Linked DNA regions of Homo sapiens. The protein of the gene in region 1 interacts with the protein of each later gene in a biochemical or structural test. Each region holds a gene or a part of one and is shown on either strand. Other genes may lie near its edges.

The links. Proteins that work in one complex are often made in the same cells at the same time.
Region 2: the proteins of HBEGF (region 1) and CD44 form a complex in vitro, tested with the Homo sapiens proteins (one study listed by BioGRID).

The regions. Positions count from the first base shown.
Region 1 is NC_000005.10:140,332,176-140,336,820, reverse strand, and holds the end of HBEGF (proheparin-binding EGF-like growth factor precursor), read left to right. Parts: intron 1-793; coding exon 794-949; intron 950-2,072; coding exon 2,073-2,145; 3' UTR 2,146-2,163; intron 2,164-2,540; 3' UTR 2,541-3,978; downstream 3,979-4,645. UniProt on the Homo sapiens protein: Growth factor that mediates its effects via EGFR, ERBB2 and ERBB4. Required for normal cardiac valve formation and normal heart function. Promotes smooth muscle cell proliferation. May be involved in macrophage-mediated cellular proliferation.
Region 2 is NC_000011.10:35,198,171-35,201,670, reverse strand, and holds part of CD44 (CD44 antigen isoform 1 precursor), read right to left. Parts: coding exon 3,425-3,500; intron 1,026-3,424; coding exon of another isoform or gene 754-1,025; exon of another isoform or gene 590-753; coding exon 476-589; exon of another isoform or gene 4-475; coding exon of another isoform or gene 1-3. UniProt on the Homo sapiens protein: Cell-surface receptor that plays a role in cell-cell interactions, cell adhesion and migration, helping them to sense and respond to changes in the tissue microenvironment.

The sequences.
Region 1 (4,645 bases):
AAAAGAAAAGGCAGTTGCCATGTGATTTATTTCTTGAGTGAGAAGAGCCAAGGGATTGTTTCTGACAGTCTTCCATGCTCTGGCAGGGCAGCTGGGCAGAAAGATGTTTCTTGATTTGTTTGGTTTGTCCTGTGATGAAAGAGGCCTGGTAGCTCAGCGTGCAGAGGCCAAAGGCCAGAGTTGAGCTCCCAAGTTGGGCCCTGCACCCAGGGGGAGCTGGAGTTAAATGAAGGAAACTTGAGAAAAACGACTCCTGGCAGAGGCACAGGGCCTATTAATAGGCTGGACAGCAGTGGAGAGGGACTGGACGCTGGAAGCACGATGGGGAAGGCTGGGTTTATTTCTGGGTCAGAATGTTGAGGGGCCTCACTGGAGGGAGTGATACGAATTCCCTCAATTTAGCCTACCAGCTCTTGTGCCCAAGCCCTCATAAGTGGCTTAAACAGAACGCCTGAACACACATGTCATAAATCAGCCACACGTGGAACATATCTAGCTGAGGCCTTCAAGTCCTCCCTTGCTTTTTCCATGCCTAGAACAGGATTCTCAGCCCAGAGAACCAGAGGAAATGGAAAAGGGGAGGGTGTCAAGTGAGAGAGGAATGCTACAGAGCTTTCAGAGGGGCTTTAAAGAGTTTTCTACTAGAGGAGAAGGATGGAGGATGGGCAGGGATCGTGGTCAGGGATTGACAGGCTGAGGGTATGAGGAATGGGGTTTGGCTTATGCAGGTGGGCCATTGCCAAGAGAGGCCAAAGCACTAACTCCATCTCCTTCTTGTTCTGTCTTGAACTAGCTGCCACCCGGGTTACCATGGAGAGAGGTGTCATGGGCTGAGCCTCCCAGTGGAAAATCGCTTATATACCTATGACCACACAACCATCCTGGCCGTGGTGGCTGTGGTGCTGTCATCTGTCTGTCTGCTGGTCATCGTGGGGCTTCTCATGTTTAGGTGAGTGTTGGGGTCCCCTGCAGGCTGTTTCTGCAAATCACTCCCTTTCTTCCTCCTCCTGGGCCCTCTCCTTGATGGTCACATGCACTTCCCTCAATCTTTCCAAATCATGGGCTAGCTCCGGGGTGTAGATTCTCCAAAAACCTGGTATTTCTGGCATGACATGAGTCCTGTGTCTAGAGCCCAGGGTCAAATTTGCGAGGCCATAGCAGGTTCTGCTCCTCACAGGAGTTCTTTTCCTGCCTCCATGACCCAGCTACCCACTCATGGAGTCACTTTGTCACACATTTCTTTCTCCTGGCTGTTCTTTGATGGCATTAGTATGTGGTTTGGTAGTCAAGGTGTGGGTGGTGCTAGTGGTATATCCTTCCACTTCTGAGGCGTCTGGACCTCAGGCCCTGCTTTCTAATCCAGGTATGCTCTAGCTTGGGAGACCCACCAAGCACTCTATGCCTGTTTTCTTTCTTTCTTTTTTTTTTTTTTTTTTTGAGACAGAGTCTTGCTCTGTCGCCCAGGCTGGAGTGCAGTGGTGTGATCTCGGCTCACTGCAAACTCCGCCTCCTGGGTTCACGCCATTCTCCTGCCTCAGCCTCCTGAGTAGCTGGGACTACAGGCACCCGCCACCACACCCAGCTAATTTTTTCTATTTTTTAGTAGAGACGGGGTTTCACCATGTTAGCCAGGATGGTCTCGATCTCCTGACCTCGTGATCTGCCCGCCTCGGCCTCCCAAAGTGCTGGGATTACAGGCATGAGCCACCGTGCCTAGCTCTATGCCTGTTTTCAAGCAGTGTAACTCATCTGTCATGAGACCTGGAACAAGTTACTGTCTTTCTGAGGATTGTAACCTTGTAGTGATTGTAATGTTTGTCCATCTACCTCATAAGGATGTTGTGAGGATCACGTAAATGAGGTGAAAGCTATTTGTAAATTGCATCCTGCTATTAGAGACAGGAGTTCCTCGGGGCAGTTGGGCCTTTGACCAGAGTTTGGGCTGCCCTACTGCCTGGGCTTTTCCAAGTAGTAGAGGAAACCACCATGGCAGAGTTCTTTGGAAGGACCTGCTCTGGACCTGCACTTTGTCATAGCAGGCAGGGCTTATTCACAAAACTTATCTTCCTCAGGTACCATAGGAGAGGAGGTTATGATGTGGAAAATGAAGAGAAAGTGAAGTTGGGCATGACTAATTCCCACTGAGAGAGACTTGTGCTCAAGGTAACGCTCCATCCTTTGCCCCATGACATGATTATCCTTTGTCCCCTTTCCTGGCTGTGCTTCAGTGGGTGCTGAATTCTTCATATAGGGGTTGGGGGCCAGGCTACTGTGACATTAATATCCCATTGCAGAATTATTTTCAAAAAGACTCAGTGCTTCACTTAAGGTAAAAGTTGCTAGAGAGACACCTAAGAGAGATGCCTGAGAGGACAGCTTCTCCCACCCTCATCCCCTCCCTTCCCCTCCCCTCTCCTCCCCTGGGAGACAGAGTGAAACCCTGTCTCAAAAAGTTTAAAAATAAAAAAGACTGGACCAGGAAAATCTTAAGACTTCTTTAGACTGGACCTGGCTTTACATGCCTTCCTTTTGTGCTTTAGGAATCGGCTGGGGACTGCTACCTCTGAGAAGACACAAGGTGATTTCAGACTGCAGAGGGGAAAGACTTCCATCTAGTCACAAAGACTCCTTCGTCCCCAGTTGCCGTCTAGGATTGGGCCTCCCATAATTGCTTTGCCAAAATACCAGAGCCTTCAAGTGCCAAACAGAGTATGTCCGATGGTATCTGGGTAAGAAGAAAGCAAAAGCAAGGGACCTTCATGCCCTTCTGATTCCCCTCCACCAAACCCCACTTCCCCTCATAAGTTTGTTTAAACACTTATCTTCTGGATTAGAATGCCGGTTAAATTCCATATGCTCCAGGATCTTTGACTGAAAAAAAAAAAGAAGAAGAAGAAGGAGAGCAAGAAGGAAAGATTTGTGAACTGGAAGAAAGCAACAAAGATTGAGAAGCCATGTACTCAAGTACCACCAAGGGATCTGCCATTGGGACCCTCCAGTGCTGGATTTGATGAGTTAACTGTGAAATACCACAAGCCTGAGAACTGAATTTTGGGACTTCTACCCAGATGGAAAAATAACAACTATTTTTGTTGTTGTTGTTTGTAAATGCCTCTTAAATTATATATTTATTTTATTCTATGTATGTTAATTTATTTAGTTTTTAACAATCTAACAATAATATTTCAAGTGCCTAGACTGTTACTTTGGCAATTTCCTGGCCCTCCACTCCTCATCCCCACAATCTGGCTTAGTGCCACCCACCTTTGCCACAAAGCTAGGATGGTTCTGTGACCCATCTGTAGTAATTTATTGTCTGTCTACATTTCTGCAGATCTTCCGTGGTCAGAGTGCCACTGCGGGAGCTCTGTATGGTCAGGATGTAGGGGTTAACTTGGTCAGAGCCACTCTATGAGTTGGACTTCAGTCTTGCCTAGGCGATTTTGTCTACCATTTGTGTTTTGAAAGCCCAAGGTGCTGATGTCAAAGTGTAACAGATATCAGTGTCTCCCCGTGTCCTCTCCCTGCCAAGTCTCAGAAGAGGTTGGGCTTCCATGCCTGTAGCTTTCCTGGTCCCTCACCCCCATGGCCCCAGGCCCACAGCGTGGGAACTCACTTTCCCTTGTGTCAAGACATTTCTCTAACTCCTGCCATTCTTCTGGTGCTACTCCATGCAGGGGTCAGTGCAGCAGAGGACAGTCTGGAGAAGGTATTAGCAAAGCAAAAGGCTGAGAAGGAACAGGGAACATTGGAGCTGACTGTTCTTGGTAACTGATTACCTGCCAATTGCTACCGAGAAGGTTGGAGGTGGGGAAGGCTTTGTATAATCCCACCCACCTCACCAAAACGATGAAGTTATGCTGTCATGGTCCTTTCTGGAAGTTTCTGGTGCCATTTCTGAACTGTTACAACTTGTATTTCCAAACCTGGTTCATATTTATACTTTGCAATCCAAATAAAGATAACCCTTATTCCATAGCCTTTTGTCTGTTTGTTTTAACCGGGAACTGGTTTAACTTAGTTATTTCCTAAGCCCTGACTTGGTGGTAGGCTCTATACCAGGCCTATTTATGTATACTACCACAACAATTCTGCGATGCAGGTACTATTACTGTCCCATTTTTCCAGAAGGGGAAACTGAGGCTCAAAGTGGTTGTGTAACTTGCCTGAGGATACACAGCTAGTAAATGACAGAGCTGGGACTAGTAGTCTGGCTCCAATTATTTTGTCTTAGTACTTATACCATGCTATCTCTGAGATAAGAAAGAACAGATCTTTCGCACAGCATGTTTAGCTGGCTGTAATCAGGGAAGATATCCACCCATTCAGTCAACAGGCCCTGGACTCAGGATCTACTCCTATGCTGCACATATGAGCAGGCATTGCTTCTGGCAAGAACAAGATGTCTTTGACTACCCTATCTTGCTCCACAGCCAATCCATCAGCAAATCTTGTCAGCCCTACCTTTAGAATACATGCTGTATGCAACCACTTCTCATCACTGCCACTACCATCACCCAGTCCAATTTCGCATCATCTCATGCCTGCACTTTTGTGATGGCCTCTGCCTTTCTAGTTCCATCTTGCTTCCATATAACATATTTCCAGTGTAATAGCCAGAGTGATCATGTCTTTCAGATCTTGT
Region 2 (3,500 bases), on another chromosome or scaffold:
CTGCTGTGATGATGGTTAAATACACTGTGACTTGTTATCAACCAATCTTTAATGATTCTATTCTTCCATTAAAGTGCATGCTATTTAACAATTCTATGCCAAAGTGTTACCTCTGAGCATCCACTCTCAAAAATTTTGAGTGACTTTACCTAATTGGTCTCAAGAGAAAATCAATGGGCTTGGAATTTCTTCATGTTCCCTTATTATTCCACTATGATCAGTTTGTCAAAGGCAGAACCACAAACCATTCAAACATATTCATTTTTATCATGAAGCAACATAAAAAATCCTGTGCCCACATGGTATAATTGATAAATGACTCCTAAATGGAATTAAGTATCCTCATAAAAGTCCACTAAGAATTTCTTGATCAGATATTAACTAAATTTCCCACTGTGCCTCGATGATTGACCTTTGCAGCATCATGGGCTTTGAGGGGAAAAAAATCTTTCATTAAATATGCAGAACCCATTACCAGTCATCCTTGTGGTTGTCTGAAGTAGCACTTCCGGATTTGAATGGCTTGGGTTCCACTGGGTCCAGTCCTGGTTCTGTTTTGTGTGGTCAAAAGCCCGTGGTGTGGTTGAAACTGTGATAACGATGATTGAAGCAATTAGAAAAATGTTATTTCTTGAGCCTTCGCCACTTGTCCCGCACATAGTCTTGCTTCTGTAGGCTATGCAATGAATCATCTATACCAGGTTGTATAGATGGCTGCATGGAAATGGAGGGAAAGCGGAGGGTGACTTCAGCTTAATTCAGCCATATTGGTAAGCATCTCAGTGTCCTTTGCATTCTGTCATAGAATACCTTGGGGTTCAGAACATGAGATCTTCCAGATAAAACAGTCAAAGAAGCTGCAGCAGTAGGAAGGACAGCTTTGAAAACACCAGCCCTCCACCGAGGATAACCAAAGGCGCCATTTTGCCCATCCATGCAGTCTGTAGTATCCCTCTGCACTTGAAAGCCCAGGGACTTAGTCACTGTGTGCTGTTTGTAGATCCTCCGGGTGAAGAGGCAGATAACTGAAAGTTATACCATGATAATCACTTTATGTTGTTAGTAATTTCAGTGGGGAAAGGAATGCCTGAGCAGCTAGAGCTTTCCTATAGATGATTCTGAAAAAGAATACCTAGAATAGCCATATGTTTTAGCGATACATTTCTGAATATTTATCAAACACTATGGTATTCTCATCAAATACAAAATATGTCATGAGCAAGCCATTCATAGCCAGTGAAAGAAAATAAGACACCACAGGTAACCAGCCACCATCATAGCAGCACACTGGAAAGAAAGAGGCGTACATCCACCAGCACCCTGATATTGTCACCCAATCTGTTAGGGCTGGAATAAGAGATGCACCTAACAGAAGGATCATGACAAAATCTGAGTCAACATGTTTTGTGAAAGGTTATTTGCAAATCCATCCTAATTGTTTCAAACTTTATTTTGATACCCAAATAACGCAAAACTGTTTTCAGAACTATAATACTGTCAGCTCTATTTTACAAGTTATGAAAAATCAAGTTTAGAATCATTAACCACATTCTCAATAGGCCTGAAAAAGTGCTTATTATCAAGCAGTTATCACACCCCTCCAGAAGAAAGAGGGCATCATGTTGAATTATGTCCATAGGTGCTAAGCAGAAAAGAAAAAAAAAGAAAAGCAGAAATTGGAAAAATATGCCATAGAGATTTAAAAAATTAAAAAAAAAAAAAAAAAAAAAAAAAAACAACACCATGGGAAATTTTTCCCTGAAGCCTGACCATACAATTCATTTACAGGTAGATCTGTTTGGGTTACCACCCAAGGGAATTTAATTTCTTCAGTATCAAGACCACGTATTTACTGATGGGCCCATCTGCAAAGCTGGGCCACATGCTGAACACAGGAGACAGTATAATGTAAAACTCCAGTGTTTTTGATTATTTGGTTTTTGTTCTGAAGTTACCAAAAGGAATTTTCTTATTCCATAGATTAAGCTCTGGAGGGGTGTCGGGTCTAAAAAAAAAATCACTTAAAAGTTTAGATAGAAAATTCTAGTTCCTTTTGAGTATTTGTCATATCAATGTTATATACTCAGATGCCTTCAAGGCCTAAGCTATTTTTTTTTCTGGACCCTTTCTTCTCTGTCCATTTGAGGATGAAATTCTCAGATTTTAATGGAATGGATAGAACTTCAGTGAATTGGGAGAGCTCACACAGCACCCCAAAAGCCTTTTTTCTAAGGAAAAGCAGAACTGTGATGGAGTCAGGTTCAGGATTCTCAGCTCTGTTCAGCAAAATCTTAAGTCATTACAGGTATGTGTGGAAAACTCAGTAATCTGGCAGAATATTAGACCAACCTTTGCATGTTTTTAACTTTTTAAGGATATCTTTAAAGCTCAATTTCCATCTCTTTGTTCTCAAAAAGTTTTATAATTGTCAAAAATTTGGATACTATTATGTACCAATAGTGGTTTCATTATTTGCTTTTAATAAGTGGCAATGTCTTGCTAAAGCTAACCTGACATTTGCCCTTCCCTTCAAGGTCTTTCTGCTATATTGGTGTCCAGCTCATTTGTTAAAACTCTGGATTTGTTCCTTTGACCTCAGCTGGGCTTTGATTAACTAAGATAATTCTTGAGTTCTAGCTCCCATCATTTAAGCCTTTAGGGCCTTCAATTTAGGAACTTCCACAACTTTTTTTTTTTTTTTTTGAGATGGAGTCTGGCTCTGTCACCCAGGTTAGAGTGCTGGAGTGCAGTGGCGCGATCTCCTCCTGGGTTCACACCATTCTCCTGCCTCAGCCTCCCGAATAGCTAGGACTACAGGCACCCGCCACTACGCCTGGTTAATTTTTTGTATTTTTTAGTAGAGATGGGGTTTCACTGTGTTAGCCAGGATGGTCTCGATCTCCTGACCTCGTCATCTGCCCGCCTCGGCCTCCCAGGGTGCTGGGATTACAGGTGTGAGCCACCACGCCTGGCCTACAACTTTTAATTAATACCCTCCTCATCACATTCTTCAAGTCTATTGCTCCAACAGACCATGAGCTTCTGAAAAGCAAAGGCTCTGGCTCTTTTCATCTTCGTGTTTCCAGCACCTAGCACAGTAAGTACACAATGTACATTTTTTGTACTGTTTTAATGTCATTCTCTGATAAAGCCTGATCATTCAAAGACAATCTGTAGCAGTAGATCCCATAGATAAATAAAACAGGAAGAACATGAGACAAGAGAAATTTTGTGAGATATTTTCCCCACTTCTCAAAACATTCTATTTCTTCTTCCATAATCTCATCAAGATATAACTAAGGTATGATCATAGGTTCACCCATTTTTCACATTAACTACTTCTCAAGAGAGATACAATTTGGTATCACTCAGATTAATCAATAAGCCTTGCATAAATGGCTGTACTGTAATTGATTATTCTTACTGGTGCTGGAGATAAAATCTTCATCATCATCAATGCCTGATCCAGAAAAACTGAGGTGTCTGTCTCTTTCATCTTC